Regions from separate parts of the Homo sapiens genome. Here regions 1 and 3 are each linked to region 2. Evidence: fine-mapped expression QTL. A gene starts in region 2. Each other region holds a variant in brackets. All regions are shown on one strand. Distances are from middle to middle. Region 1 overlaps KCNN3 (potassium calcium-activated channel subfamily N member 3). Region 2 holds the start of KCNN3 (potassium calcium-activated channel subfamily N member 3). Region 3 overlaps KCNN3 (potassium calcium-activated channel subfamily N member 3).

What was found.
Region 1: its variant is fine-mapped to the expression of KCNN3 in sun-exposed skin (GTEx, PIP 0.91).
Region 3: its variant is fine-mapped to the expression of KCNN3 in lung (TOPMed, PIP 0.96).

Annotation. Positions count from the first base shown.
Region 1 is chr1:154,811,751-154,822,060 of GRCh38, reverse strand. All of the region lies in intron 2 of KCNN3 (potassium calcium-activated channel subfamily N member 3), which reads left to right. Among named protein-coding and RNA genes, the nearest start is that of KCNN3, 53 kb to the left of the region's middle. RefSeq lists enhancers at 7,829-8,486, 8,487-9,146. The variant G/A (reference allele first, on the strand shown) is at 5,501.
Region 2 is chr1:154,866,776-154,876,986 of GRCh38, reverse strand. It overlaps KCNN3 (potassium calcium-activated channel subfamily N member 3), which reads left to right and starts at 6,706. Exons shown (of 8, transcript NM_002249.6): 1 at 6,706-7,955. The coding sequence starts at 7,023. RefSeq lists enhancers at 6,837-6,926, 5,999-6,955, 8,363-8,882.
Region 3 is chr1:154,833,607-154,843,916 of GRCh38, reverse strand. The region is part of intron 1 of KCNN3 (potassium calcium-activated channel subfamily N member 3); the gene reads left to right. Among named protein-coding and RNA genes, the nearest start is that of KCNN3, 32 kb to the left of the region's middle. RefSeq lists enhancers at 3,090-3,384, 3,039-3,540. The variant G/A (reference allele first, on the strand shown) is at 4,113.

The DNA.
Region 1 (10,310 bases), 55 kb after region 2:
CAGCGGCTGATCCTTTGGCCTTGCTCTGAGCCGAGCCCATCCCCACCCCCAAAACCCACTCCCTTAGCAGCTACTTGGGTGATTTTACAAGACGGTGCCCAAGATCGTGGCTCTTCTCTTCTGGTTTGGACCCAAATGGGAGAGGAAACTGCGAGGCCGCCCTGTGGCTTTCGAATAACTGTTAAGTTGTCTTCAAAGTGGGGATCCCAGAGGCAAACATAGGGCTTCATGTTGAGCGAGGCTGCCGTATTCGGGACCCTCACTGAGCACCATCGGACCGGGAGAGCCCCTGATGCATTGCTCTGCCTTTTGTGTCTCTTGTCCTTTCTGAACTTGGGCCACTCAGTTCATCCCTTCAGTGAGGCAGACCTGCCTTGTGTACCCCCACATATGCTGCACCAAACTCCACCAAGGAGTCTGCTTTTTGTGAATGGTGTGGTCTTCACCCTTGTGGGTCTAGGCTGGGGGTGTCATTTTCTAGACAGAGTAAGAGTCTGCTGTGGCCGAGAAGGCCTCTGTTTCTTGCTGCCCAGGAGTGACTTGGTACCCAGAGAAACATTGGCTGGGCCTCCAGGGTGCACTTCCAGTTTGGCTGACATAGGGAGGATGGTTCAACCCGGGCCAGGAGGGTCAGACAGGAGAGAACAGATCTGAAGCATCTTCTGGTGACAATGAGCTTCCCCCAGCCCCCGGCCCTTCAGGCTGACCTGCACTGCTGTGGACCTGAGAAGTTCTAAACTATCCAGATGTTTTTCCTCATGTGCATGTGAATCTGGAAACCATCCCGGTCCTTTGGCTGGAGGAGCACAGATAGATTCACATCTGGGCAGCAGGCGAGAGATTGACGAAGACCAGAGCTCAGAGTCAGAAAAACTGGGGTCAAGTCTCGGCCATGACCTTTTTTCTTGGTGTGTCTTTGGCCAGCCCTGTGACCTTCCTGGGTCTCGATCTTCTCATCTAGAACATGGGGCCTTTATTCCAGCTCTGCTGAGCTGTTGTGAGGATGGGATGAGGAGCGCATGGGAGAGTGCTTTGTGAAGCGCTATTTAACAACACCGTTCAAATCCAGTCCCATTTGTTACTCGGCATTTTCAGGGTGGAGCAGCAGTGCGGACGCAGGTGGGAGTGCCTCCTCCTCTTAGAGAGCCTTGGCTTTTTGTCTGAAGGTCAGGGGCCACTGTGGCTGGCTGGGACATGGAAGCCTTGGCTCCAGGCCACCTTGGCAGGGCTGCATTCTGTCAATGACTAGAGGATACTGACCTGGATGCTGGGACTCTTCAGCCTCTAAAGGGTTGCAGATGCTTGGACAGGGGCTGTGCCTGTGCCAGATGCCACCAGGCAGCTTCCTTCATGGAGTCTGAATTGGACAGAGTGGTGGACTTTAACTCAGACCATTGTCCAGTCAGCCCCAGAAAGGAGCCAGGAGTACAGGCAGGGAGGACTAGGGCCACGGAATCGAGACAGGACAGAAGTTGACAGTCTGGGCTCCGGGCCTGGTTCCACCCCACCCAAAGCCAGCCGCGGGATCCAGGCAGTCCCTCAGTGTTCATGTTCTCATCTGTAGGGAGACTGTATTACTATGTGTCACCCTGACCTGTGTGGGGAGGTGTCACACACAACAAAGAAAAAAGGCAGAACCATAAAACTCAGTTATGACCCAGGCTTGAGGAAGGGGAAGAAGAGGAGCTGTTCTCAGCCTCAACCCCACACTTTGGTGGTGCTAGGCCTGATTACTTCCTCTTTCTGCTCCAGGCATTGGGGTGGGTAGAGCCAGGTGTCCCTCCCTCTGATGCTCCTGAGGTCCTTGTTCCCAGTCCAGGGCCTGCAGCCCTAGCTCTCAGCCTGTTCTGGTCCAGCTGCAGCTTGACTCAGTTCCGGCCTGGTGGCAGGGTCATGTTGCTGACAGCCCAGAACCTGGCTGGGTACCCATTGTCCCATGTCCAGCTCATGGCCAATCTCTGTTTCAGCCCTAATCATGGGCAGTAGATGATGCTATTGGGGGTCATTCATTTTGGCCTGACACAATTTGGAGAAACAAAGTGAAATCAGTTGTGTTGAATCCTGACTCTGGGGCTCAGTTTCCCCATCTGAAGTATGGGAACCACATCACCCACTTTGCTGAACTCTTGCAGGGGTTGGAAACAGTGTAGAGTACAGAGTGGGCTTTCACAGAATGGAAACTTTGGTCCCTTTCCTGTGACCTTTGTCCCACTGCTTCTAGCTGGGCCTTGCACTTACCAGCTGGGTCCACCAGGTGGTCACTATCACGACTGCCTGGTACTGGCAGGTGGCTGGGCTTCCTCCTGCTCTGGCCCAGCCCTGCCTGTACCCTGAGCTCCCACCACCCAGCCCCTTATCCTCCCTGCAGCCTCCGTCACTTGAGGAAAGTCACCAAAACCGGCTTCCTCTGTGCCTCTTACCTTTCCAGTAAAGTTCTTTCTGTGCCCAGCTAGACCTTCTCTTGCCAGAGGGAAATGGGAACAGTTTGGGCCCAGAGAGTCAGTGGGAGGGAGGTTCCTACGGAGCGCCCTTGTATATACCGCACTGGGCCATATTGTAGTTTTCTGTTGGGTGTCTTTCTTCCCTACCTCAGGGACAGTTATCTTTGCATTAATCTTTGCATGTCCAGAGACTTATAGTGTCTGACAGTATACTCTTCTCGGCAGAGTATAGCACGTTTGTAGCACGTTCTTTGAATGGAAAGCATGCTGAGTTCAAGGTAACTCTTTTCCAAAGCTGGTCGTACCTTGACTTAGCTTTTTGGTCTCGGGCCTCAGTTTCCTCATCTATTACTTAGCCCCCCAATCTTGTAATTCTCTGATTTAGATCTGGCTGCTCAGCCAGCTGCGGAACCTGCTTCCTGCGAGTGGAGGAAGGAGTTATCCCAAGTGTGACTGATGAAGTTATGCAGAGGGGAGTGCTTAGCAAGCACCCTTCCACAGGCAAAGGCCAGCTGCTGCTCACCTGTTGCGAAGCAGGCAGGGCAGGGGGTGGCTGCCGCATCTCCCCTTTGGGTGATGTCAGGACCTTTGCTAGGAATCTGCTCACAGCTTTCCTCATCCACAGTGGTTCCTGATCACCTAGCTAAATTTTAGCAGGGACCAGATGATCATGTCCCCGTCTTCCCCAGCCTTGCCCCAGAAGCTCACACCCAGGACCCAGGCCCTGCCCAGCACACATGTGAGGCTGGGGGAGTACCTTTTAGAACAGTATTCTTACTTGTTCATTTAGATGGCTTGAGTTTTTCAGGAAGAAGAATTCTAAAACACTGTTGGGTAACTCTCACCCAAGCTGGGTAATTTATAAGGAACATAAATGTATTTCTCACAGTTCTGGAGATCGGGAAGTCCAAGATTAGGGTGCCAGCAGCTTCAGTTGTCTGGTGAGGGCTGCTCTCTGCTTCCAAGACGGCGCTACGTTGCTGCATCCTCAGGCAGGGAAGGCAGGAGGCTGAGGGACTGAACACTGCATGGGGCCTCTTTGATACAGGCCTCAATCCCATTCACAAGGGAGGAGCCCTCATGGCCTCAACATCTCTGAAAGGCCCCATCTCTTGGCACTACCACATTGGCAACATCTGAATTTTGGAGGGGACACGTTTAAACTGTAGTGTCCACCTAGTGCAGGAACCCCAGGGCCTCTGTGTGTGCTACTGTGACGGAGCTGCTGGCCCCCCTGGGAGAGGCTGCCCTACCAATGTCTTTAGAAAGCCCGCCCTTCTGCCGAGAAGAGGCAGCCTCCCTGGAACTTGCCCCCTGGCCTGGTTCTGCTTCTGGAGCAGGGAAAAGAAGGGGTTGGTTTCCCGCATGGTAGCCTCCATTGTTGGAAGATGGCACCCCACCCCATCTCTCCTCAGTCTCCCTCTCTGTTGGCGTTTTGGAGCACGGACCTTTCAAAGACTCAGGCACCTCTTTTCCTCAGGCCAGTGTGTCCGGGAGAGAAATGAAAACACAAGAAGCAATGCATTTTGTTTATTTACCAAAACTCTGACTGAAAACCATGCTCTCCCTTGGAGAGTCCATTTACTTCTGTGGTTTAGCTCTCACCAACAGCTCTCAGACCGTGCTAATCCCCTCCCCAGGCTGCAGGCTCACGTTTTACATGCCACCGGCAGCCCCTGGCTCCACACACAAAACACTGAACTCCTCTTGCTCCCCAGTATCCTCTCCTCCTTTGCCCTTGATGACCCACCAAGTGCAGTCATTGGTTCAGCATCTATTTAATAATGTTCTTCTAGGTGCAGAGCCCAGGACAGGAGCCCAGTTCTCTAGATGAGAAACTCAGAATTCACCATTGCTTCTCCCAGGGGTCATCAGCCTTGAGTGAATCTATGGCTCTAATGAATGGCCCTGGTGCCATCCTGGAAGGCAGGCTAGCAGGCAGAATCATAAAACTCAGTTATGACCCAGGCTTGAGGAACGTTCTCTACTGAGAATGTAGACTTCAGAGCAGCCCAGCTTGGCGCAAATCATGCTGTTTGTCACATTTAGTGTGTAGGTGGCCTTTAGCAAGTTACTTAATCCTTCTTAGTCTATTTCCTTTCTGTAAAATAGGACTAATAACCATACTGTGGAGGCCACAGCAACTCCATCTTGGATGCTGATCCTCCATATTGACTTCCGATTAACCCAGTTTCGGGAAAGCCTCTAAGATTTCTCCTTTATCTACTGTTTACTGTAAGTCCTGCCCTTAGGCAAATTGCTTCTGAAGCACATATACCCCTTTCCTCTGGTATTTAATCCCTGGGACTAGGGGGTCGTGGTGCAGGATCCACCATCTTGTCTTACTGCTGCCAGAGACTGTGGCTTTTGTTCATAAGTCCCTATTAAATGCTTCTTTCTGAGAAACTGGATATGTCAGCCCCTTTCTTCAGCCTTTCAGCTTCCTCAGCCTTTGGGGGTAGGTTTGAATATGCCTACCCACCCGGAACCAGTACCTACCAGAAAGGGTTATTGTACAGATTAAATTAGATAATATATGCAGAACTCCTTAGCTTAAGTAAGAATGTGTTTGTCTGGCTGACAGAGTGGAAAGGATACCCCAGACAGAGGTCTCAGAGTAAACAAAGGCTCTGAGATGGGGAACTGCAGAGCACACTGGGAATGTCTCAAGGACAGGGTCCTGGGTAGAGGGGCAAGTTCACTATGGAGGGTGGGAAGGACCCGTAGGGACTTGTTTGCCTTGCTGAAGGGTTTTGGAATGTCCTGTAGGCAGCAGCAGAAACTATGAGAAGGTTTCAAGCTGGGGACAGAGATGATCAGATTTACATTTTAGACAGCACTCTTCATCTGCAGCATGCAAATATAGGAAAGGCCAATTTCAGAGGCAGGAGGACAGTGGGAAGCACGTCATCATGGGCCAGGTGAGGGGTGTTGATGCCCAGAGCTGGGGCAGGAGTGAGGAAGGGAGGATGGGAGGGATCCAGTACCCCTGGGAGGAAGTGCCTGGCTCAGAGCCCCAGGCATGGAATAAGGGGTGGGGTGCAGACACATTCACATCC[G/A]GAGGCGTGGAGCAGAGCCTGGCATCCTTAATAAAGTTGCAGGGATGGGAGGTGCCGTCCCTACATCCAGGCCAATGCCGGGCACGTAGCAGGTAGTCAGTGAATGTTTATTGAATTAAACTGAAGAGACTACTGTGACCCAGGATGGGATACAGAGCAGTGGCAGAGTTCATATAATCCAGTCCCAGAATGGGAGCTTCAGAGATCATTAATTTCAAATTGTGGTTCTTGGCCATATTCAAAGTAAAAGGCATCAATCAGATCAATGGGGTGGAGATCCACTCTTGCCTGGGGATATCAATCCCCTCAAGATCTAGCGTTGGTCTCAGATGTTTCCAGTCTTTTTCAAACTCAACAGAAACGTAACGGTAGTAACAAACTATGGGCCTTCAACCTCATGAATTTGAAATACAAGGGACCAAAAAAAGGGGAGGCTTTTAATTTATTAGGTATATAAAAGTGGATATTTTCATTAAATACCAATAGAGTTCTGAGCAGACAGGGAAATTACTTGAAATTACAGGACATAAATTATAGGAAGCCTCACTTCCTGTGGCATAATTGCTCTGTGGATGGGAGTGTCCTCCTGGGTGCGTGTAATGTGCTGTCACAGGGACATGGGTGTCTGTAATGCAGGAGGTGTTGCTGGCCCAGGTGCTTTGGGGTCCCACCGCTAAATGAGTTAGTGGTGTCTTCCCCTGAAAGAACAGACAGGACAACTCACGTTGCGTCTTGCTCTGTGCCCTCACCCTCCCTTCTCCCTGTAAAAGAAAGCAGGCTCAAGTCACATCCTGAATGTAACCTGTAAGGTGTCCTGGCACTGAGAGACAAGGTATAATAGCAGAGCACGTACTGACCTCTCTAAATTTTCCAACCCTAGTACAGTCTATAAAAATGGTGAGTCCATTCATTCGTTTACTTATTCAACAAACATTTATTGTAGGACTACTTTGTGCTAGGCATTGAGAATCCAGAAATAAAGCAGACCTGATTCCTGCCTTTGGAAATTGGTTTGTCCTAGACCTTTATCCACTGTGACCCAGGGTCATAAGTGCCATAATATGAGGGTCTGTGAAACACCAAGTGGCCACGGAGGAGGGAGTGATGCATTTCTCCCAGAGAGGCTGGGCAGGTTTCACGCGGAGATGATGCTGTGCCCTGCATTCGCCAGGAGCAGAGACCTTGTATGCTCAGGACAAAGCTGGCCCAGAGCGTTTCAGGAGAGGAAAAAAAAAGAGAAGGAAGCTGTGCCTGTCCTCCGAAGGGAGGTGGAGGCTGCCCAAACCCCCCAGGTAGGGGCTAGAGTCCCCATCCTTCTTCAGACACCTGGTAGAGGTTTCCTAAGGGTGTCTCTGGCTGGTTGGTTGATGAATTAGAAATACCTTCATTGAACCTCCGAGATCTTGAGACCCCCAGACAGACTTCTCAGCCTGGCTAGGTTTGAGCATGTCAGCTCCTTAACTCAGGTGTGATGAGCAGATGGAAGGAGGGAGCTCGGGCCACTCGTACTGAAGGGGAGGAGACCTTGACAAGGAAATTCCAGATGGGGGCCTCCTCTGCCAGGTTTACATCCCTCTCCTGTCCCACTTTCATGAGTGTGCCCCTGGATGATCACAGCACACAAGGGAAATTGAAAATGGGGAATGTGTTCCAGAGAACAGCGACTGGTGATGGGGATTCACTGGAGCGCTGCTCTTCTTTGGGCCTCGGCCTCCTGCCTGGCCCAGCTGTGCACAGTGGGGCTAGAAAGAAAGGGAGAAATAGAGAGAGGAGCTACACCACCAACTGGGCCCGAGAAGTCAGAACACCATGGAATAAATCCTCGTCAGACTACACTTTGAAGACAGAAAGCTCAGAGCTGATACATTAGCAAGCGCCTCAGAGACGATGGTGTGGCCACATCTTGTCTAGCGCTTTGTATTTTTTAGAGGGTTTTCACATCTATGAGGCCTTGGGCCTGGCCGCCTTCACCTTTTTGCCTTTTAGGTTTCAGCATAGATATTTCCTCCTCCAGGAACTCTCTCTGGCCATCGTCCCCCTTCCCTGACCCCAGGGTGCCCCTTCTAGGAGTGGACCTAGCACCAGCTCTTATAGCAGCGGCTCTTACTTGTCCCTGCGTGTCTTATGTTGGTTGTGAATACTATTTCTTGCCTGCAACTCCCTTCTCTGACTGTGGGCTCCATGGCAGTGGGGACTGTATTGGTTTCACTGTTGGACCCCCAAAGGCATGAGAGTGCCTAGCACATAGTAGGTGCTATTCAATGAGTGTAGGCTGAATAAATGAATGAATGAATGACAAAACTGGGGTAGGCATGGCAGATTTACTCCCTCCTCATTCTAAGGAGAAAGTAGAGCCTCTAACAGGCTGAGAGCCTGACCTGAAGCCCACAGACCTGGCATCTGGCCCGTGCTTTCTGCATCCTAAGGGGCTGCGGGTCCCAGCAGGTTGCCCAGTGAGCTGGCCATGCCCACCATGGCCCTCCCTGCCACTCTCTGGGAGGCCCACCTCGATCCCAGCACCTTTTCACTTGGATCGGCCGCTGGCCATGGATTGCCATGGTTACTACACCAGCCCTGGCAGTCTCTGTGTGACATTTTGGTTTTATTTGCTAAACATTTAAACACTTGGGCTTAACCCTTTCTGCCTCAGAGGGGGCTTTCCTGCCCCTGCTCCCTGTCCCTCAGGTGTGAGGGCCCCCGGCTGCTCTCCCTGGCCCTGGCTGGCGTCTCCGATGGGGTGGGTGTGCTCGTGGTGGCAGCAAGGCTTGTTTCTCGGCTGCCTGTATTGACTTTCTGTTTTGTCTCTGGGGAATGTCATCCTGGATCATGCTCTCACTGGGTGGTGCTGTGTCCATTAACAGGTGTGAAAAGCCCTGCTCCGGGCATGTTAAGGCTTGACCTCCCCGTCAGCTGGGGTTCTGTTGACTTCCAGGCAAACGCCTCTTGCCAAGTCCTCCAGGAGCTTCCTTAGCTCCAGGAGTTCAGGACGGGGTGGGGAGGGGTCATCTGCCCTTGAACCCTGGCAGGAGGACAGAGGGGAGACTGGTTTCGGGAAGAGTCCGTGTTTGTGAATGGGAAGGCGGTGCGTCGCCTGGCCTCCCACGCCTCCTCCCCTGCGGGCTTAAGATGAAGCCTCCCAGGAAGAGGAGGCGGCCCGGGAGGCTGAATCCACCCAGCTATGTGTTACCTTGGAAACCACACACTTGTCCTCGCCCTAGGCCATGTGAAGTGAGGGGGCCGTGGACACGCTTCTCAGGAAGCTTCCAGTGTAACTCAGGATACAAAAAATCACAGTCCCAGCATGGGCAGCTGAGAGAATGAAAATGTTCAAAAAAAAAAAAAAAAAAAAAAAGCAGCCTAACAACTGCCCTGCCCAAGGGGCTCCCACCCCAGCAACCCTCTGCCCATTCTACATGGGACGAGAGGCCAGGGCCAGTTTGTCTGGGATGCTGATCACTTGTGAGCTTGGACAAGCTACTTGTTCTAGCTCAATCTCAGTTGTGTTGTCTGTAAAGTGGGCAGATTAGGCCAGAGGATCTCTGAGAACTCTGATTGTAGCCAGAATTCCATGTCTGAGGGGCACTGCCTGACAAGGAGAGGAAAATGTCGGGAGAGTGGCTGTGAGCGGTTTTTGGTAACAATGACTGACCTGGTTTGTGTTCAGGAGGCCCTTTGTGGGACTGTCCGAACAACTTCTGTCCCTTCTCTTAATAGCCTTGCCTCTGCCCAGTCACAGAGCTGGCTGTCCCCTAAACACAGCCTCAAACTTGACATAGAAAACAATAATAAAGACAGCTCTTTGGCTCCAACATCTTAAAGTTTAAAGGTGACTCCTCTTGAGTCTCTTACACACAGGAGCTGGTCAGACAGCTTAAAGTTTTCAGGATAATAGAGTAAGTGGCCAAGTCCCCTGCCTTAACAATCCATTCCAAACTCCTTCCATGAACGCGCACTCCCACTTCTCCAAAGTCATGGGGAACAAGTGCTCAGCTTAATAGAATATTCTGTTTCTCCATCATTCTCAGCAAACTATCGCAAGGACAAAAAACCAAACACCGCATGTTCTCACTCACAGGTGGGATTGAACAATGAGAACACATGGACACAGGAAGGGGAACATCACACACCGGGGCCTGTTGTGGGGTGGGGGGATGGGGGAGGGATAGCGTTAGGAGATATACCTAATGTAAATGACGAGTTAATGGGTGCAGCACACCAACATGGCACATGTATACATATGTAACAAACCTGCACGTTGTGCACATGTACCCTAAAACTTAAAGTATAAAAAAAAAGAAAAAAAAAGAATATTCTGTTTCTCTGAGAGTGCCAAGGTGTGTCATCCCTGACTTTTTCAAAGTTAATCCGTTCTATTTGGTTTTGTTGTTACCATTTTTCAATGATGATCATTTCCCCCGTGGCAGCGGTTCTCAATCAGGGGTGTGCCTCAGATCCCCCGTGTCATATCTGGGTCCTGCATAGGCAGGTGAACCCCACTGCCTGGGAATGTGTGTTTTGACAGCACCGCAGGGGGGCCAGTGCACACTCTTATTAAGAAACATGGCACTCAATTAAGCTCAGGGAGGCCAGCGTCTTCCCAATCATCCCTGCAGCCACCCCTGCTGTGCCTAACGAAGAGCACTGTGCATAGTAGGACTCAGTGACTCCTGGGGTAAGGATCATTGACTCTCTGAGAATTTGTAAAGTTGGAAGGCACTGTTGAATCTTTAGTGTTTGGAGGCTTCTATACAAGTGTTGTTGCATTGTGCTATCAAGAAAATTCTGATAATTCTAGTTTCCTGTTGAGTAC
Region 2 (10,211 bases):
CTGGCGTGTTGGAACCATGAATGCCCACAGTTGGCCCTCAGTAAATGCTCCAAGTGTAGGGAGTCAGGCCGTATGTCCCCTTTACCTTGACACTCAGATGATGCAAAAGAGCTCCAGTTTTTCTTTAGCAAAGCAGAGTATGGGGAGGAGCCTGTGTGAAGCTGAAGACTCCTTGGCACCCATAGGTGGCTGAGAGTTGTTGGTGCGTGGCCAGGGGACAGGTGACATGCTGTAGTCCTACCTTGCTCCTCAGATCATGGCTTGCAGGGGCAGGGGTTAGGTGGGCATTCATTATAAGAGGCTTCACCCAGGGTCTAGACATCCAGGGACTCTCAGGAAAGAAGTGTGGACAGAAGGCCTACACTTACCAGTTGGCATTCCTGGTGGCCAGCCGGGCAAGTAAGGGGCAAGTAATGTGTCCTGGGTCAAAGTGCCCAAACTCTCAGTCAGGCTAAACTCACTCACCCTCTTACCTGCTTATGTATTCAACACACAATTTGGGTGCAGCGTGAAGTGCAGTGTTTTGTGTGTGTGTGTGTTTTCCAATTTATACCATAAGCTCCTGTCACCAAGGAGCTTATGGTGTCAATTAAAATCAGGGAAATTAGCCAGGCGTGGTGGCGGGCGCCTGCAATCCCAGCTGCCCGGGAGGCTGAGGCATGAGAATCGCTTGAACCTGGGAGGCGGAGGTTGCAGTGAGCCAAGACTGAGATCGCGTCACTGCACTCCAGCCTGGGCAACAGATTCTCTCTCTCTCTCTCTGTATATATATATGATAAAATCAGGGGAGAGAAGACATATATCTATAGACAACACCAGTACAAAGCAAGAGGTGAACAGTGTCCCCAGAGAGATACAATAAAGTGCCAAGGGAATTCGGAAGAGGGAGATAATGTCAAATTGAGGGAGGAGAGGAGGGGAGGTCAGGGAAAGCTCTGGGCAGGGGTGGCACTTGTGCTGCTCCCTAAATTCTCACAGGACAGGACACAGAGCAAGAGGTGGGCTGGAAGGGCTTTCCAGGCAGAATGGATGGGAAAGAGCACAGACAGACCCAGGTTCAAATCCATGCCTAACTGGTGACCTTGAGCAAACTACTGAAACCTTTCTAAACTCTAGTTCATGGGAGTAAGAGTGGCAACGATGAGGCAATAGAACCTCCCCAGCCAGCCTTCCAGGGCTGCCAAGAGTTGCAAATGAAATATTTTACATAAAAGCAGTTGGAAAACTATAAAGTGCTCTGCAAACACAGGATTTGTTTTTATTATTGGAGCATTAATTAATCCAGTAATGAAGCTCCTAGATAAGAACACAGTAATGACTGAACCCACATGGGCTAATGAGCTGTTCAGCCTAAAGCTGTCCAACCATTCAGAGTCTGAGAAAGGGGGTGGTTAATCTTTATGACCCTATCCTTACCAGGTTAAGGGTATCCCTCCAACACCACTGGCTTTTCTAGAAAACCTGCCATTATCTGTCATTTGTGTCTAAACTCCCTCCATCCATCCATCCATCATCCATACATCCATACATCCACCCATCTATCCTCCCATTCATCCGTCCGTTCATCCATCCATCCATCCACCCACCTATCCACCCATCCACACGTCCATCTGTCCATCCATCCTACTATCCATCTGTCTAATAAATCTTTTTTTTTTTTTGTGATGGAGTCTTGCTCTGTTGCCTAGGCTGGAGTGCAGTGGTATGGTCTTGGCTCATTGCAACCTCCGCCTCCTGGGTTCAAGCAATTCTCCTGCCTCAGCCTCCTGAGTAGCTGGGATTACAGGCGCTCGCCACCACGCCCAGCTAATTTTTGTATGTTTTTTTTTAGTAGAGACGGGGTTTCACCATGTTGGCCAGGCTGGTCTTGAACTCTTGACCTTGTGATCGGCCTCCCAAAGTGCTGGGATTACAGGCGTGAGCCACCAGGTCCGACCAATAAATCTTTAATGAGTAATTCATAGCCAGGCACCGTGATCAGTGTTGGGGATACTGAAAAAATTTAGAGCCCTTTTATGCAGGTCACAGCCTGTGGGAAAGACAGCCATATAAACCATGAACCACTACTTTTCTTAAACCTATTTTCAGTTAGTTCTACCTTTTGGGGATAACAAGGTCTACAGACAATAGATTATGGAATTTTAAAGCTGAGTGATCTTAGAAATCATCTTTTTTATCTCACTATTTTACGGATGAGGAAATTGTGTTTATGATTTGTTGTGAAAAGTACTGTGACTTTCCCTTACTTGCCTTCAAATGACCTCATCCAGGTTTCAAGTTTAGTCAGTTCGATTAATCTTTACTAAGCATCTATTGTAAGCGGCTCTTCGGAAGAGCTGCAGTACAGCTGTGAAGAAGACATCATCCCTGCCCTCAAGGAGGTCATGGTCTATGGGCAAAGGACACATATGGAGATAACAGCTGTGTTGCTCCGTAGAGGCCCTGTTAGCACAGGGCACTGAAAATACAGAAGGAGCTCCTGATTTGGGTTTGGGGAGTTCAGGGGAAGCTTCTCAGAAAGAAGACCTTTGAGCCATGTCTTGAAAGGCAAAGAGAAATGTGTTAGATGGAAATCTGGGGGAAGGGCATGCCAGGCAGAGGGCATGGAGATGTGAAATAGCATGACTTACGGGAGAGCTACAATAGGTCGGTGATGCTGGGGCTTAAGGAGGAAGGTGGTGAGGAATGAGCCTGGAAAGGAGGGCAGAAACCGAGTGCCAGTACACTTGATGTGGAGCCAGTATGGCCAAAGGCCACCCCTACTTTCCTTGTCTGCTCTTCCTGTCTCTCTGAGGTAAGAAGCTCCTCCACACCCCCGTTTGCAGACTAAAGAGGCCTAATTTGTCAGCCTGTCATCTTAGGGCAGCATAAGGAGTTGCTCCCCATTCCTTAAGGTGTGGCTTAAGTCCCACCACCTCCAGGAAGCCACCCTTGACAACCCTCTGCCTTCAATGAACTCTACTGTCTCGCCCACACTTTGGGATCTGCATTGCTGTTTTTTGTCACCCCATGTAAGTATAACTTGTCTCTACAGTGAGACTTTAAGTTCCTGAGGGTTGGGTGTGTGAGTCACATGGTAATGTTTAATAAACACCAGTAAGAATGAATCCTTTAAATTTGGGTTTCAGGACATATGGCGAGGGTTTGTCAAAAGGTTGGACAGGCCTGGGTTTGATTCCAGCTTTATGGCTAGTTACTAATTAGTAACTCTGGGCAAGTTTTAAAATCTTTTTAATGCCTCAGTTTTTTCATCTATAAAATGGGTGATGGCCTCAACTCACAGGCTGCTGTGAAGACATGGTTGTGGCTGGGGGCCAAGGGAAGCATTGGGGGCTTTTCAACAGTGGGGCTTTGGACAGGCAGCAACAGCGGGAAGACGCCTGAGTGCGGTGCATCTGGAGGGCAACGTGGAAAACCTGACATGATCAGGCCCTGTGGTTGAGAGCTCCCAGCTGATTCACTAACCTGTCGGTGCTTGACAGTTACAAAGTACTTGGCCGGTGCTCTCATTGGACTAAGGAAATTGAAGGCCTGAGAACATAAGCAACTGGTCACAAAGTGGGCGAGTGGCAAAGCTTGTGCTGGTGAGAAGGAAGGCAGAGGGTGGAGCGCACAGCCTGTATGTAATGATATAGGAGGCAGTAATATGCTGATAAATGTTGAACAGCCAGGAAAGATTTAGCAAGCGGCTTCCAGGAAAACATAAGCTCTAATTTACAGTGTTAGCCGATTTCTGTGGTGTAAATACTCTGATCATGGCTGATTTCAAGCTGCTAATGTGACATCACTGTGGAGTTAGGAAGAGATGTGTATGGATGATCAGAAGGTCATCTTGCCTGTGGTCACACAGCCATCCCTGCAGCAGAGAACGGTTCCAGCCTGGGCAGTCTGACACTTGAGCCCAAGCTCTAAACATGACATTGTCCTCCTCCTCCTGTTCATGACAGGATAGCTGTAACAAGGGGCATGAGCTGGCTCCGTGGCATCAGCTGTCAAGTTCCAGCCCATTTCCAGATAACCACTGATCTTTGGTGCTGGCATAGTTAGGGCTCTACCCAAGCTATCTTTCATCCTTATCCATGATGGCAGGACGTGCTCTGATAGGCCCCATTTGGATCCCATTGGCACAGCCAGAAGAACTGGAGGCAAGAGGCTGGCCAGAAAGGTTAGCTGAGGCAGAAGGCAGCTCATGGGGGTAGAGTGAGCATAGGAATACCCAGGCCTGGAGCCTGTTCTCCAAAATTGATTTTTCACAGCCCAGAAAACTGTATCCAACACTAAAAAACCAACACGAACAGCACATTTTTGCTACTAACAACATATTCATGATAATTTATTAGAGGATCATTAAACCTAAGTATGCGATCTGGAGCCTTGAACCAAGCAGGTGGCTCTGTCTGCGGATGGAGGAGAGGGAGGGAAATCAAGAATACAGAAGGGAAGGGCAGGGAAGGCAGAGGATGCTGAAGGGGTTGGGGGTGGGTTCTAGAGGGCTTGGTCATGGGAAAACACATGAGACCCCAGGCTTGCATCTGAGGCCTGGTACTGTGACTTCTAGTGTGTGTGTGTGTGTGTGTGTGTGTGTGTGTGTGTGTGTGTGTGTGTGTGTTGGCAGGGGTAGGGGAAATGATTATGTCATTGATATCAAGATTATTATTTTATATATATATATATTTAGAGACAGGGTAACACTCTGTCGCCCAGGTTGAAGTGCAGTGGCGCTATCACAGCTCACTGCAGCCTCAAACTCTTGGGCTCAAGCAGTCCTCCTCCCTCAGCCTCCTGGGTAGCTGGACTACAGGCACTCGCCACCATGTCCAGCTAATTTAAAAAATTTTGTAGAGTCTGGGTCTTGCTATGTTGTCCAGGCTGGTCTCGAACTCCTGACTTCAATCAACCCTCCTGCCTTGGGCTCCCAAAGTGCTGGGATTATAGGCATGAGCCACCATGCCTGGCCAGAATCAAGATTATTGTGCAAGAGTAATTGTCACGTATCTGGGGTCGTGGCTTGTATTACAAGTAATATTTAGCTCTCAATCATCAGGGTTAATGGGGGATTGGAGAGGTGAGAACTGATATACAGAGGGGACTCTGGGCTCATTTTGGGGGGGCTCTGTCCCTCCCTGATCTGGACACTTGCTGCTTACCAGTCAGGAATGCTGTTTTAGGAGCTTCCTATGTGTATATGTGTGCATGTGTGCATGCATGGGCTAGTGTGTGCACACAACCATGTACACATGTGCACATATGTCCACCTGCTTACATGTTTTCTGGATGTGTGTCTGTGTATGTGTGCATGGATCTCCTACCCTTTCCTCTTCCCATCGAGGGAGGGAGCTGGACAGAGGCCAAAGGGTGATGGGGAATCAAGAGCCAGAGAGGAAGAGGCCTGCCTTTTAAAACCCCAGGTGTTCTGGGGAATTCCCTCATGGTGACTTCCTTTCTGATTCCTAAGGCTGCTGTGGTTAGAAATGAAAATGAATTCAGCTCTGGTCCCATCCTTTGGAACCCCCTCTGCACACAGTGGGGGCTTAATAAATACTTGATGATGATGGTTCTGAACCTGGGAAGCCAGCAGCTGTTCCTAGTTCTGACTCTCAGAGCCCCATGGGGCAAATCAGGCAGGGAATGACCATGGGGGAATCTTCAGTCTTCCTGCCAGATCCCCCTGTGACTACACACCCAGCTGTTAGGGAAGGGGCTGGAGCCATGGTCCACTTCACACACCCTGCTTTGGAGAGGCCAGTTCTTCCTCAGCAGCTTCTCTTTTGTTTTCCCCAACTAACATTTGAACAATATTTATTGAACAACCACTTTGTACTGAATATCATAGTGGAAATGCATCCTGGGAGAAAGTATCTGATCTGTGGGGTCAGACTGACTAAGTTCAAATCCCAGCATCTTTAATTACAAGCGGGATGACATCTGACAAGTTACATATCTATGTTTGAGCGTTTGAGTGTTTTTTCCACTTTCCTTTCTCTCCTTCTTCTCCTTCTCCTTCTTCTTCTTCTTCTTCCAATTTTCATCTGTAAAAGGAGAGTGATGACATCATTTTTGTGGGGTTGATGTGAGGGTTGGAAATAACAGAGAGGACCCTGAACACGAGGCGTAGGCACTCAGTCAATGGTAGGTGAGTTTATCCACCGGGTGTTAGAAGGTGTGGATCCCCCCTGCTTCTGTGACCTTGACGTTGTTACTCAACACCTCTAAGCATCAGGCTTTGTAAATGAGACCATACTGCCCACCTCCTTGGGTGTTTGGAGACTGTATCCGGATAATATATGTGAAACAACCTATCGTAAACCCTGGTGGTTAATAAATGTTTGCCTTCCCCTCCGTCTGCCCCCTCATCAGGGTGCACACCTCCCCTCCTTCGGAGGCCCTCTGTCCCTCCTCCCCATCGCCCAGCGTGAGCGAACATCCCTTATCGCCGTGGGCTTAAGGGTTGTGGCCATACCTGTCAGAGGAAAGAGGACAGCGGCTCAGCTCCGGGGTGGGGGAGCAAAAACTACAGTTCCCAGTCCTCGCTGCGCCGCCACTGGGGCCGGAGCCCAGGACGCCAGGCCCCTCCTCTGGGGAGGAGCCTATGCGGGGGGCGGAGCTAGGAGGAGGTTGGAGAGTTAAGCCAAGCCAATGAGACCAGCTGCTAATAAGTGGGCTTGGCTTACAATGTAACAGTGGCAGGAGGAGGCGAGCGAAGCTATTGAGCCAGCGAGGAGTGAAGCTGAGCCTGGCCTCACACGCTCCTAGAGGACCACCTCCTGAGAGAGTTCTTTCACCCCCTCTTCTTTCTCCAAGCTCCCCTCCTGCTCTCCCTCCCTGCCCAATACAATGCATTCTTGAGTGGCAGCGTCTGGACTCCAGGCAGCCCCAGAGAACCGAAGCAAGCCAAAGAGAGGACTGGAGCCAAGATACTGGTGGGGGAGATTGGATGCCTGGCTTTCTTTGAGGACATCTTTGGAGCGAGGGTGGCTTTGGGGTGGGGGCTTGTGCTGCAGGGAATACAGCCAGGCCCCAAGATGGACACTTCTGGGCACTTCCATGACTCGGGGGTGGGGGACTTGGATGAAGACCCCAAGTGCCCCTGTCCATCCTCTGGGGATGAGCAGCAGCAGCAGCAGCAGCAGCAACAGCAGCAGCAGCCACCACCGCCAGCGCCACCAGCAGCCCCCCAGCAGCCCCTGGGACCCTCGCTGCAGCCTCAGCCTCCGCAGCTTCAGCAGCAGCAGCAGCAGCAGCAGCAGCAGCAGCAGCAGCAGCCACCGCATCCCCTGTCTCAGCTCGCCCAACTCCAGAGCCAGCCCGTCCACCCTGGCCTGCTGCACTCCTCTCCCACCGCTTTCAGGGCCCCCCCTTCGTCCAACTCCACCGCCATCCTCCACCCTTCCTCCAGGCAAGGCAGCCAGCTCAATCTCAATGACCACTTGCTTGGCCACTCTCCAAGTTCCACAGCTACAAGTGGGCCTGGCGGAGGCAGCCGGCACCGACAGGCCAGCCCCCTGGTGCACCGGCGGGACAGCAACCCCTTCACGGAGATCGCCATGAGCTCCTGCAAGTATAGCGGTGGGGTCATGAAGCCCCTCAGCCGCCTCAGCGCCTCCCGGAGGAACCTCATCGAGGCCGAGACTGAGGGCCAACCCCTCCAGCTTTTCAGCCCTAGCAACCCCCCGGAGATCGTCATCTCCTCCCGGGAGGACAACCATGCCCACCAGACCCTGCTCCATCACCCTAATGCCACCCACAACCACCAGCATGCCGGCACCACCGCCAGCAGCACCACCTTCCCCAAAGCCAACAAGCGGAAAAACCAAAACATTGGCTATAAGCTGGGACACAGGAGGGCCCTGTTTGAAAAGAGAAAGCGACTGAGTGACTATGCTCTGATTTTTGGGATGTTTGGAATTGTTGTTATGGTGATAGAGACCGAGCTCTCTTGGGGTTTGTACTCAAAGGTAGGGGCTGTGGTTTCTCTTTATACCTTGAACAAAAGGAATATGTAGGTAGCAAGAGAGGGATTGAGAGAGGGGGATTGTGAGAGAGAGAGATTGAGAGAGAGAGAGAGAGAGAGAGAGAGAGAGAGAGATTGAGAGATTGGGAGGGAGACTGGGAGAGAGAGGTGGTGGTGGTGGTGAGAGGCGCTTGCTCAGTTATATTCAACACTCTAACTTCCCGTGGTTTTCCTTCTTGATCCCGGGAGAATTCATTCCTAGCTTCCTCTGGGGGGTAGGGGACATCCCCACACACTGTGTCTAATTTGCAGACTCTCTGTTAGGGAGGATTCAATAATCCCTTCTGAGAAATCGCTTTTCCTCCTGGCTCACTCGTACTAAAGCATAACCCAGCAGCTTAACGCACCAATTAATTACACTCCGCCTTCATGTGTTTGCCAGTTCCTGCGACTTCCCCTTCTTTCCTCCCCTCCCTGCTCCACTCCATTTTCCTGAGGATAAAAAAGAAATAAATGTCTGGGTGGGGGGTGGGGATTCCGTACCATTGCCCAAGTCCCTTCTCTCCCTGTCTTCTCCATCTCTTCCCAAGTTTCTGTTTCCCTCCTCTTCTCAGAGAGTCTCGGGCAAAATAGAAAACCATCCATGACCTGGGTCTCCTGAGGGCATGGGGTAAAAATATAGGTGGAGGAAATCAGTGGTCCTTTCCCTCAGGAGAGAGGACTCAGAATAAACCTGCTGCTGCTTCGTAAACATCTCCTGATAAAAATGGCTACAGGTGTTACCTGGGCAGAGCAGCTGGGCGCCGCCTTGGAATCAGCTGGGGGAGCACCTCTCCTTGGGACGGGATGACAGGGCTTCCCAGGCGGTCCCCACAAGCCCGCGCCCCAGCTCAGCCCCAGTTCTCCCCTCCCACCTCAACTCCTCCTTGGGATAAATAAAGATGAGTGTGTGTGTGAGTGCGCGCCCGGATGGAGAACAGCAGGCACTGGCTTTAGCGGGGAGCTGGCCCCACTGCTCCAGCCTCTCAGTCCAGCCCCAAGACGGAGGAGGGGGTTTCCCTCCCAGAGGGAGTGGAGATGGAGGAAGGTGGGTTTCTGCCGATGCTCTGCTTGCCGGGGAGCTCTCCTGCTGTGGGCTGGAAGGCTTGGAGACCTGGGAATCGGTGGACAAGTGGCTCCACGATACCCCCACCCCCAATTTGTTGGTGTGTGTGTGTGTATGTGCGTAATGTTTGTACGTATGCATGCGCCTGCTTGTTGCTTGGGTTTTTCTATTTATTTGTCATTTGGGGCAGGGGGTGGCTTGGTGGGGGGGTGGCTGGGCGGGCTGGCCATCGGGTAGCTGGGAGGGGTTCAGCTGTTGGAGGTTTCAAATAGAGCTTGTTTCAGGCAGGGCACAGCTGCTGCGAGACTGTCACATTCCTTATTGAAATCCAGCCGCAAAAACCTAGGAGGTGCTGATCGGATTTCCCCCATTCCCAGCATCTCACTTTAATCGGTGATGGGCAGACTTTCCCGCCCTGGAAACGGGTGGGGCAGACCTGTCAGACGACCTGAATAGCCAGGACCAAGACTTCCAGGCAGAGGGTCCTCCAGCAACCCGGCTGCTCTCTCAGTGGGCTGCCCCAGCGGAGGGCAGCACCTGGAAGCCGCCTTAGTCAAAATAGCTCAAGGATGAGCGTCTCAGCGAGCAGAAGCGAGTGGGGTTTCCCTTGGAAGCGCAGCTCACTTAGTCATTCCCTGTAATGAGCCTCTGCGTCTGCGGGTCCTTCTGCTCGCTGCCTTCTCAGAACCGCCTCTCCTGCTGGGCGCTCCAGGATATGGGGCTGGCAGCCTCGCTAGGACTGGCAGCTGCCCTGGTCACAGCCCTGGCTCTCTCCAGTCCTCCCTTGGAGACCAGGGGCCCTCACTGGGGAAAACTGATGAAGGCCCAAATGCAAGGGGGGTGTGGGGAAGGGGCAATCCCAGCACCTTCTCTTTCAGTGACACCCGTAGTCAGAGTTCTTAAGGAAACGGCTATTCCCAGAGACAGTGGCTGTGCACAGATCCCAGTGTGGGATCTATGCACATTTGTCTTAACGCGACGGGAGAGTCACCACTCTGCAGGATCAGGCCCTCTTCCCTGCCTGGGGCAGGTGCCACCCCTGAGGGGGAGCTCAGGGAAAGGGGCTTTCCCAGAGATGCGGAAGGCAGATTTTAGGTGAATGAAAGGGGAGGCCACCTGAGGTGCTTGGCTCCCCGCATTTCTGAATCACAGACC
Region 3 (10,310 bases), 33 kb after region 2:
GAACTGGCTTCATTAAATCTCACAGCCGCCCCTCCATGTCCAGACAGCCTTCCCTGAAAGTCCCCTGGGTCATTATTTCTCCAAACGTCTGTCTTGCTGAGGCATTGGACTTCGTTAAGTGCCGTCTGGAATTGTAACTATTGCCAAGTGCCTTTTTCTTGGGTTCTGTGGGAAGCAAGGGTGAGAAGGAGTCTCCGGGAGAGAACTCCCCACCTACCCCGCCTGGTTTCTCTCTCAGCGTTTCTCACTGTTGCTTTAAAAGGTTTCAGCCTCTGCTGTAAGGGGCCTCTTGCTTTTCTCTCCCAGCCTCCCTGCATACTCGCTAACCTTGGGACTTCAGATTTGATGAGGGGCCGGGCGCAGTGGCTCACACTTGTAATCCCTGCACTTTGGGAGGCCGAGGTGGGAGACTTGCTTGAGGCCAGGACAACATAGCCAGACCCCATCTCTATTAAAAAAAATATTTGATGAGGGCTGAGGCTGGGACTGAGGATACTTGAGGCTTGAGCTCAGTGGGTGCTGCCTGGAAGCCCGGGGATGTGGGCTCTCAAGCTGAAGGGACGCTGGGAACCAGCTGTGGAGAGCCAGGCAGCTGGCTTTTTTGTCTAGAACCTGGATGGGGCAGCTTCTTGTTCTGGGGAGGGGAACTGTTCTGCAGGGTGGATGGATGCAGGGAGCCAGCCCTGGTTGGGAGGTGGGAGGGGCAGGGACCATATCTAGCTCCTGGAGAGGCCAAGCAGACCGTCAAGGCTACAAACAGGCTGGGGTTCAGCTTATTTCAACATACTTCTTCAGCATCTATGTCTATGGGCTGGGCTTGTGCTAGGCCCTAGGTGTCAGAGATATGAAGGCACTCATAGCTGTCATTTATTGAGCTCCTATTATAAGTGTCAGGTCCTTCGCTAAGCCACTTATTTACACGTGTCATCTCATGTAATGTGTATGACAACTTTATGAGGTCACTACTCTTACTGCCCCATTTTATAGATGAGTAAGTTGAGGCTTGGTCACATGGCGAGGAAGTGGCAAAGTGGGGCTCTAAGTGAGGTCTTCGGACTCCAAAGCCCCTTCTGCAGACCGTGATGCTTTGCTGCCTCTGTTGAGTCAAACCGGACTCTTCCCTTGAGGCCCTGATGGTAACAGCAGTGTAAACAGATGGTGAGCACAGTGTAGTGTAATATATGCAAGGGGAGAGGTTGGAACCAGGCACAGAAGTAGCACTGAGCATTTAATTATGTCAGGGAGGGCCGGGGAAAGCTCACAGAGGAGGTGGTGGCGGGGGGGGGGTCCCTGAATGAGCCACAGGAGGGAAACCAGATTCTGTCTGGCACTTAGGGAAGCAGCCAGTGGAGGCTGCAGGTCAGTGGGCTGGGGTGAGGGGTAGGGGCTTTAAATCCCAGTTGCTTATAGCCCCCTTCTGCCCCACTTTTGGGGTGCGACCAGGTGATGTGAAGCTCAGGAGGTCATGGCTGGGACACTCAGGAAGGTCAAGTGTGGGGTGCTGCCCCAGGGCCCCTCTCCTCGGCCTGTATGTTCAATAGGTGCACTGGCCTCCCTGTCTTGGCCAGACAGCTCTGAGAGCCAGGGCTCTGTGGGTGCCTGAACTGTGTGTGGACCCTGCCTGGGATGAGGCCACAGCTGCTCCCACACCCGCACCTGCTCACACCCAAGAAGGGGGCCGCCATGATCACTGTGGAGGCCAGGGTGGGAGAACCCTCTGGACCATAGGGTCCCACCCCATTGCAGGGCAAAGAGGGGATCTGAGGCCCAGTGACTGGAAGTGATTTGCTGCAAGTCACACAGGCAGCAAGAAGTGGGTCAATCCCCCAAGGTTCTGGTTTGGAGCACTCCCGGGGGTCTCCCCTCACCCCTTACCCTGGGCTCGCCCTCTCCAGGCTGTGTGCCATCCTCACCACCTCTGTCGTGCCCTCGCTCACCCACGTGGCTACACTCTCGCGTGCGTTTCCTTCACACCTGGCCATCCTCTTAGGCCAGGCCAAGGCTTTGCTCTGGAGAGAACTTAAATGGCATTGTCAGATGAGGAAGGAGCAGAACCTGCCGATCCCATGACCTCCCAATAGGCCATCTGCACACACTCAGCCCGCTCTCCCCAGCCCTGCACAGCCCCTTCGGCTCGCACATCTCATCCTTACTCCTGCTAGCAAGCAAAGATGTCTGCAGGTGCTCTCATTCGGGGATGGGGATGTAGTAGGGAGACAATACCTGGTAGATAGAGCTGAACAACTTTCTGCAGAAAGTTTGGAGTGAGGGGGGCTCTGTGATGGAATAACAGGCATGAACCAGAAGCCTAATTCTATTGCTTAGAAGCTGTGTGGCTTTAGGCAAGCGACTTAACCTCTCTGAGTTTCAATCTCCTTATTAATAAAACAGGTACGAACAGTGCCTTGCTCAGTGGTCCCCTAACTTGGCTTCATTTTGGAATCCCCTGGGGATCTTTAAAAAAATGCTGATGCCTGGCTCCCAGCTTCTGACCTGATGTCACTGCCCTGAGGTGCAACCTGGGTGTGGGGATTTTAAAAAGCTCCCTGGGTGATACTAATGTGCCGCAAAGTTTGGGAACCACTGTCCCAGGGTTTGTTGGGGATTAAAGGAAGAATGCAGACACGTGGAGAGCGCTTACTAAATGGAGGTGATTATTTCAGTGTTCATCTCCCTGCCTCTCACTCCATTTAATGTGGAGTCTGTGGGACTGAGGTTTTTATTTTTATACCACAGTGGGTTTGCCAGAGTGCTGACCTAAGGGGGCTGTCAGCGGCCCATCTTTACCCGGAAAAGACCCTCCCTTGCGCCCTCACCATCTCTGCAGCCCTAGGGCAGGCCTCAGTCTTTCTGACAGGCCCCAGGGTCCTGATTAGGTCGGGGCCTGACCCCGCAGGGGCAGGCCTGCCCCTGGTCTCCACCTGGTGGCTTTGGGAATGGAAATGCTGGTTCCCACAAAGGCTTCTGGGAGACAGAAGCCTAAGATGGCAGGGTGCGGTGCACACACTCAGTCTGGATTCGGTGGCCTGACCTGGGGGATCCGGGGAGGGCGTTGGTGGGGGCAGAGGCGTGGGAGGGGCTGCTTCTTTGGAGCTCTCCACTCTGCTCCCTGGTACTGTCTGAGGCCCTGCAAACCTGAGCAGAGGCTGTGAGGGAAGACACATTTCTCCAGATTCCTCAGCTGTCCTGACAGGAAGTTGTGCATCACTGGGCTGACAGGAAGGAAATGGCTCTGCTGTTTGGAAAGAAATAGAGAATTCTGACTGGGGCTGAGGGAAAAGGTGTCTGCTTGGAGAAGCCGTTTTGTCCCGATATGAGGACTCTTTGTCTCTGCAGGCAGTTGCTCCCTGTTTATTTTCCTTTGAATGACAAGGATTGGCTTCAGTTAATGAGGAGCGGTGAGAGGAAAGTGAGAAGCGGCTTGTGAGATTTTGGGACACGGAAGCCTTCGCAGGAAACCTGGCCCTCTGCTTGTAATAAGCATCTTTCTTTCCCAGCTCCCTGCTTCGGGGACTGTGAGGTGACAAAGGATTTTGTGATCTCACACGCCGCTTTTTCTCCATCCACCAACCATACCTTTGCAAATGCTTTGATTTCTATTTCTTTTTACCACCCCAAAAACACAGTGGATCTTTTAATAGCACAAGGCCTTTTGAATCTCTAACCAATCAGTCTCCAAATCCTATCCAAAGTGCACTTAGAATAGACACTTTTAATAAAATATATTGCTTTTAAGCCAGTGTAAACCTGTGAAATTTGTACATTTCTTTTAGAGCATCTCTACAAATTTTACATTATTGAAATCACCACCCAGTGACCTTTTAGGAAATACTAGATAAATTGCAAGAGACAAATAGACAAACCAAATGGAGTAAGTACAATTTCCAGTGCCTTTCCTGCTAGGTTCCCAGTCTGAGTCTTAGAAATCCCTGACTCCCTGTGCCCCTCCCCCCAGCTCTGTGACCTAGCCCCTGCTCTGCAGGCCTCTCTGCCCACCCTGCCCCTGGCAAGGAGCTAGCAGCTGGGGTGTCATCTGAGAGCCATTTGCAGCTCTGAGAAGCAGCTCTGGTATGTGGCTCCTGGCACCTTGTCCCGTCTGTGTTTGTCTCTGC[G/A]CTCCATCATTCAAAACACTTCCACCAGTGGCCAGTGGCCAGGGCCCCCAGAAGGGCTCTTGGGGGTGGCTGAGGACTGCTTTAGAAAGGCTCAGATGCTCTGTGGCCGAGTCTGCCCCAGGCGAGGTCCTCAGCCTTGTCGAGTGAGAGCTGAGCGGGGGTCTGAGTCCAGCAACCCTCACTCACTGTGGAGCACTCTCTGTGCCTGGGCCAAACCTTCGTCAGCCAGGTGTGGATTATCCACTTTGTGGATTGCCTGTAGTGTCTTTTCCAAACCCAGGTCACGTTCGTCCCTGCTGCTGTCTCACTGCATGGGGACCTTTCCTCCCTATCAGCTGGTGGTGCTTAGGGGATGTAAATCAGGTGTCGTATCTTGTTTGTATTTTGTACAGGGAAAACAGAATTTGGAAGACAGATGGTCTCTAAAATCACATTACCAGAGCCTCCAAAGGGTCTCCTGGAGGCTCAGTGCTCCTTTGGGCTATGGGATCTGTTCCCCTTCTGGTGTAGGTACGCAGAGCCTTGGAGCAGTGATGGGGGTGGAGGGAGCACAACTGCGCCCTGCTTCCTGAGGTCTGCAGATCGCAGGTCACTCGATGGTGGTGGGCACGTGGTTATGCACTCATTTCATGGATAAGTGAACTCAGTCACCATCTCAGCTGCTTTGCCATCGCTACACAGCGACCTGTGTCAGCACCACAACTGGGGGTGTTACTTGGGTCCCCTGTATCTCAGTTGCTGTTTTTCCCATGGAGTGACCCGACTGCCCTCCAACATGGGGAGGGAGGGAGAGCAGAAGGCAGATCAGCGGTTAGAGATGTCCTGAGTGGCACTGGCCCTTCTGTAGGTAAAGTAGCTTCGGGAGAAACAAGGTACTGTCAAAGCTGCCCAGGCTTCATTCACTCCTTAATTTGATAATTAATTCCACAAACATTAATGGAGTTTTTCTCACATTCCAGGCACTGTGCAAGGTGCTGGGGGTGGGGGAGAAACAGAAAGATGACAAAGACTTGGTTCCCACACTCAAAGAGCTCACAGCCTGGTAAGCAGATGCTCAACGCACTTAGAATTGTCTCCCGAAGAGGCCTGAAGGGACAGGGTGGAGGAAGCGCAGAGGCGGAGGCAGCTCTGGAGGGTAGGGTGGTGGGAGTGGCGAGAACGGAGCCGGTCCTGAAGGTTGACTGGGAACGGGAAAGGCTAAGGCAGGGAGGTTGTTCCCGGCCCAGCAAGCACATGGAAAGGTTGAGGGAAACGAAAGCTTAGTGCATTTTGAAGGAGTGTGAGCAACTCGGTATGGCTAGAATTTATGGTGTGAGTATGAGATATGGGGCTGTAGAGGCAGGCAGGGGTCAGATCATGCCTTGCTTAGGGGGTCTGCCTTCATCCCAGAGGCTGTGGGGAGCCGCAGAAGGGATTTAAGGAGTGGGATGGCACGATTTGTGTCTTAAATTACTTGCTATGGAATCTACATGGTATAGCAGAAGGAGCCCGGGAGTAGGGGAAGGAGCTAGGCTCTAGCTCTAAATTCTAGATCTGGATCTAGCAGCTGGGTGACTTTGGCCAAGTCGAGGCCTCAGGGTCCTGACCTGTAAGATGCAAAGACTCTAAGGTCTGTCTTAGCCCTGACGTTCTCCACACCCGTGGCCGCCTTCCTGTTTGGCCCCCACACTCTCTGTTCTGTACTTGTCCATCCACCTCTGGCCGCCTGACCCCTGTCAGCTGGCTGTCCCACCGTGGTCAGCAGCTGGTGGCAGCTGGAGGGAGAGGGGTGAGTCCTCCAGGAAGCATGTGCACTCCTGCCCTCGTAATTCAGGCCTGCCTGGCTTCTCCTCTTCCAGCCCTGCGAGAGCGCCTTCCTCCCCGCTGACCTCAGCACACCTGGCTCCCCACGGCACACAGCCCTGGCTGGGCCCAGCTGTGTCTCTTCAGTGAGACAGTTCACCCCCTTGGGCCAAAATCCCCACCCACCTGGCCCCCACGTGACAAGAGGCAGCTGCTTCGGGGTTGCCACCTGGTAGCCCGTGACATCTGTGAGATGTCTGTGCATTTGGCTGGTGTGAGCTTTTTCCTTTGCTCTGACCCAAGCTTTGATAGCTCAGTGTGTCATCACCGGCAGTGGATGCCTGGGAGCCCCAGACTGGCTCTTCCTGCCCAGGGACCCCCAGACCCACTTCTGCAGGACGCCTTGAAACAGCTGTGGGTGGAAAGCCAGGTTTTCCCCCATAAGCATCACTCGTTCTGCTGCCTTCCTAGCTTCTGTGCTCTCGGGCCCAGAGCTCCTCCAGGGTGAGGAACCAGGAGGAGGAGTTGGCTGGGTTGGCTGTTTTCCTAGGTCTTTGATCACAGCTGTTACATGTAGATAGGCTGGGCGCGGTGGCTCATGCCTGTAATCCCAGCACATTGGGAGGCCGAGGCGGGTGGATTACGAGCTCAGGAGATCGAGACCATCCTGGCCAACATGGTCAAACTCTGTTTCTACTAAAATGCAAAAAAAAGAAAAACACAAAAAATGAAAAACAAACAAACAAACAAAAAACTAGCCGGGCATGGTGGTGGCGTGCGCCTGTAATCCCAGCTATTCAGGAGGCTGAGGCAGGGGAATTGCTTGAATCTGGGAGGCAGAGATTGCAGTGAGCTGAGATTGTGCCACTGCACTCCAGCCCAGCAACAGAGCAAGACTCTGTCTCAAAAAAAAAAAAAGGCTTAAACAATGGGTTCTAAGCAAATAAGTATCTGTTTAGTCAGTGGAACGAGGAAACAAAAGTTGATGGAGTTCTCCCCACAATTGGAAGTGTTGTTCCCCACCTAGATGATGGGGCCTGCAGGGAAGTGATTTTGCACGATTCTCCTCTTCTTGGGAACAGGCCATAGGGTAGCATCCCTTCATTCATTCATCAAGTATTTATTGAGTGCCTACTGTGTGCCAAGTCCTCTGTGAGGTGATGGAGCAGAGAGACAGAAAGGACCCCGACTGTGCCATGAAGCAGCCCTGAGCCTGGAGGGGCCACTCAGAGGGAGCCCAGGGGCGGCGGCTCTCGGGCTCCAGCCGAGTTTCCTTCAGACCTAGCCCCTTTAGCTGACAATCTTAAAGCCTGGTCCCGGAAAACAGGAATAGTGCGAGAGGGATGAAATGTGGGTGAGGAGAGTGAGACAAGGGTGGAGGTAAGAAAGAGGGATGGAAGAAAAGACGCAGCAAACTTTCCCGTGAGAGAAACGCTCCAGACAGCACCCCAGTTCCCAGCTGAGACTCCCAGCCACAGTCAGCAAGAACCCACAGGAGGGGAGGCCCACGTCCCTGCTCAGCTCTGCCCTGGCAAGTGGGGTCGGAGATGGGGCATTCCCTGCTTGGGGTCTCAGTCTCTCCATCTGTAAAACGAGGCTTTGGACTAGGGGAGCTCAGAGATCTGTTTAGAACTAATATTCTGTAACCGGTGCAGGGCAAAATAGACGGGGGGCAGGAGCCCAAATTAAGGCCAGTCGAGTATCAGGTGGGGTGTTCCTCTGGCTCCTCCTATTACAACAGCAAGAGGGACCCAGGGGTACTGTGGGAGTCCTACCATCTCCTCACTTGTACGAGGTACCTTCTGGCTGCTCTTCCGGCTGCTCAACACTCAAAGAAGGAAGGTGCTGGGTGTCCTTGTTTGCATATTTTTCTGGCACGGACACATTCTTCTTGGAGTTTCTTGACATTAGGGCCACTTGAAATGCTCAAGGTAAGGGCTGCTCTGCCTGGCAGACATGCGTCAGGTGCCTTTGGCTCCTCCCTGGCAAGTCTGCCTCCAGACGCCCTCAGATCCTGTCCCCATGCCTGGCCATGGGGCTATCTGACCACTGATGCCAGAGGGTCACACTCATCAGTCTATACAGAAGACTTGGAAATGTTTTGGCAACCCTGTGTTAGAAGAGTGGGGTTTCCTAACTGTATGGCTTTGGGTAATTGCTTAAATCCTCCCAGCCTTAGTTTTTCCATCTGTGGGTTAGGAGTGGTCCTCTCTACCTCCCAGCATCAAATAGGAAACTGTGCAAGAAAATGCTTTGTAAACAGGAAAGCCCTAAACTGACATCCAGGACACAGTGACTCAGTAGCAAATATATTCTGATATTCAGCCTTTTCCATGGTTACAGCCTCCTCTGTGCCAAGAAATTCAAGTCACCAAGGGTTAAAGCAAGCAAGGCACATGGCCGTGATTGTCCATAATTGATGAAATAAACCTTAAAGGAGTGACATATAATTAATTGCAATTAATCCAGGCACTGTGACACCACCTTGCTAAAAATACTGTCTACTAACAATTGCTTTGATCCAGCAGAATGATGTCTGCCCATGAGCCTGGCAAAGTGTCTGCTAATGGAGTGCACATAGTGGGTGTGGAAGCTGGCAGGTGTGGGGGCAGAGGGCGGGAAGGGGGCCCCAATTCTCTCAGACCCTTTGGCAGCAAATACTACATATATAGGGTGATCATATGATTCATTGTCTAAACTGGGACACTTTTGAGATTATTATATTAATGATTACCATTCATAGTAATAATTATGCCAGATAACAGGCATACACTGGACTCTCCTGGGTAAACCCGAATGTATCGCCACCCTCTGCATAGGCTGTTTTAAGCCCGTGGGAACCCTCGACTGGGAGAGTATTTTCACGTTCATTATCTGCTCTTCCTCACAACAACCCTGGAAGGAAGAAAGGATTTTTTAGTCTCATTGAATAGATGTTAAAGATGGTGATGGTGTCAAACGGTCCAGCTCTAGTCTTTGGCCTGGCTTCCTCGGTGGCTGACCCCATGCAGGTAGAGGACAGCTGGTCAGGACCGGGAGTTCTGGGGATGTGGAAACAAGTGCAGCTCAGGGGGAAAGAAGTAGCAAATCTGGCTTCAGTGGAGCAGGAACAAGCGACCTCCTCCGTGAAGAGCTCAGGGTGTAGGTCTCAGCCGGGACTGTGCTGCGGTCCTTACCAATCCTGGGCTTGGAATCAGAAGCTGTGTGTTTCAAGTCTGGCTCCCACAGTTCAGCTGTGTGATCTTGGCAAATTGTATAATCATTCCGTGCCTCAGTTTCTCATTTGTCAAGTGGGGACAGTTCCTTCCTGTGAGGATTAAGTGAGAGTTTATATGAAGATGGATGGGTAGACTCAGAGCCTGTCATATAACAGGTACTCAGTAAGTCCTTGTAGAGTTTGAATCTGTGGAGAGTTCCTAGAGGCAACACCTGTAGGGGAACCATGGAGATCCTTCTGCCTTGAAATGGCTCTAACTTGAATCAATTAGTGTGGAATGAGCTCCCGCCTTGAGATGGGGCTGCCTCATGTTCTTGGAGAAAGAAATGGAGGAAATAACCACATGGAGGAATTGGGAGGTTCCCTGACCCCCCCTAGACCATGGATAGTCTACTTGGGAGACTCTACTGCATGCCCCGTGATAGGCAGGACCAGCACCCAAGGAGTCTTTGCATCTTGCAGTTTCCTTGAAGCCCTGTACAGGCTGGTGGCCCACGTTGGTGTGTGGCTTCCAGCCTTCCTCCAGGCTCTCAGATGAACATGCTTGGACATGGGCAGGCAGTGGGGCTCGTGTCGTGCCCCATTGCTGGAATTCATGGCACCTCAAAGTAAAAGGTAGGCAGGTTGGCAGCAGTCTGGTGCCAGAGAGCTAGTGAGAGAGAGAAAGAATTATACAAGTGCCATGTTTGGTCTATTAATAGCCTGTGTTTGGTCTCCACCACTTCTATCAACATCGTCCATCACATCCAAACAATTGAAAAACCTGTGCCAAATGTTAGGAAACTCACGGCTGTGCTGTTTCTGAAAAACAGCATTTCTACTTCTTATGCCGCACTGAGATGCCAATAGTTCCATGCCAACTGGTTTTTATTTTTCCAGACCATTTCCCTTTATTTATGTTTAAGCTTTTGTATTGTTAAGCCAAAAGAAGATAGAGAACCTGGAGTAGGTAATTATTGTTTCTCCTGATTTGTCCTTGAATGAGGCATGGAGGAAATGTTCACTCCCCAAACCTGAATTGAGTAGCTGCAGAGGGGTGGAGAGAGGACTAAGACAGGGGCCTGTCCCTTTCAGACAGTGTTCAAGCTGGTGGATGGGCAGAGTGAGGATGTGGCAGAACACCAGCCCCACCCTTGGAAGGCTTAGGGCATTATCAGCCCTTTCTGTTACTGGTGTGTGGCCTTGGGTAGGCCAGAGTC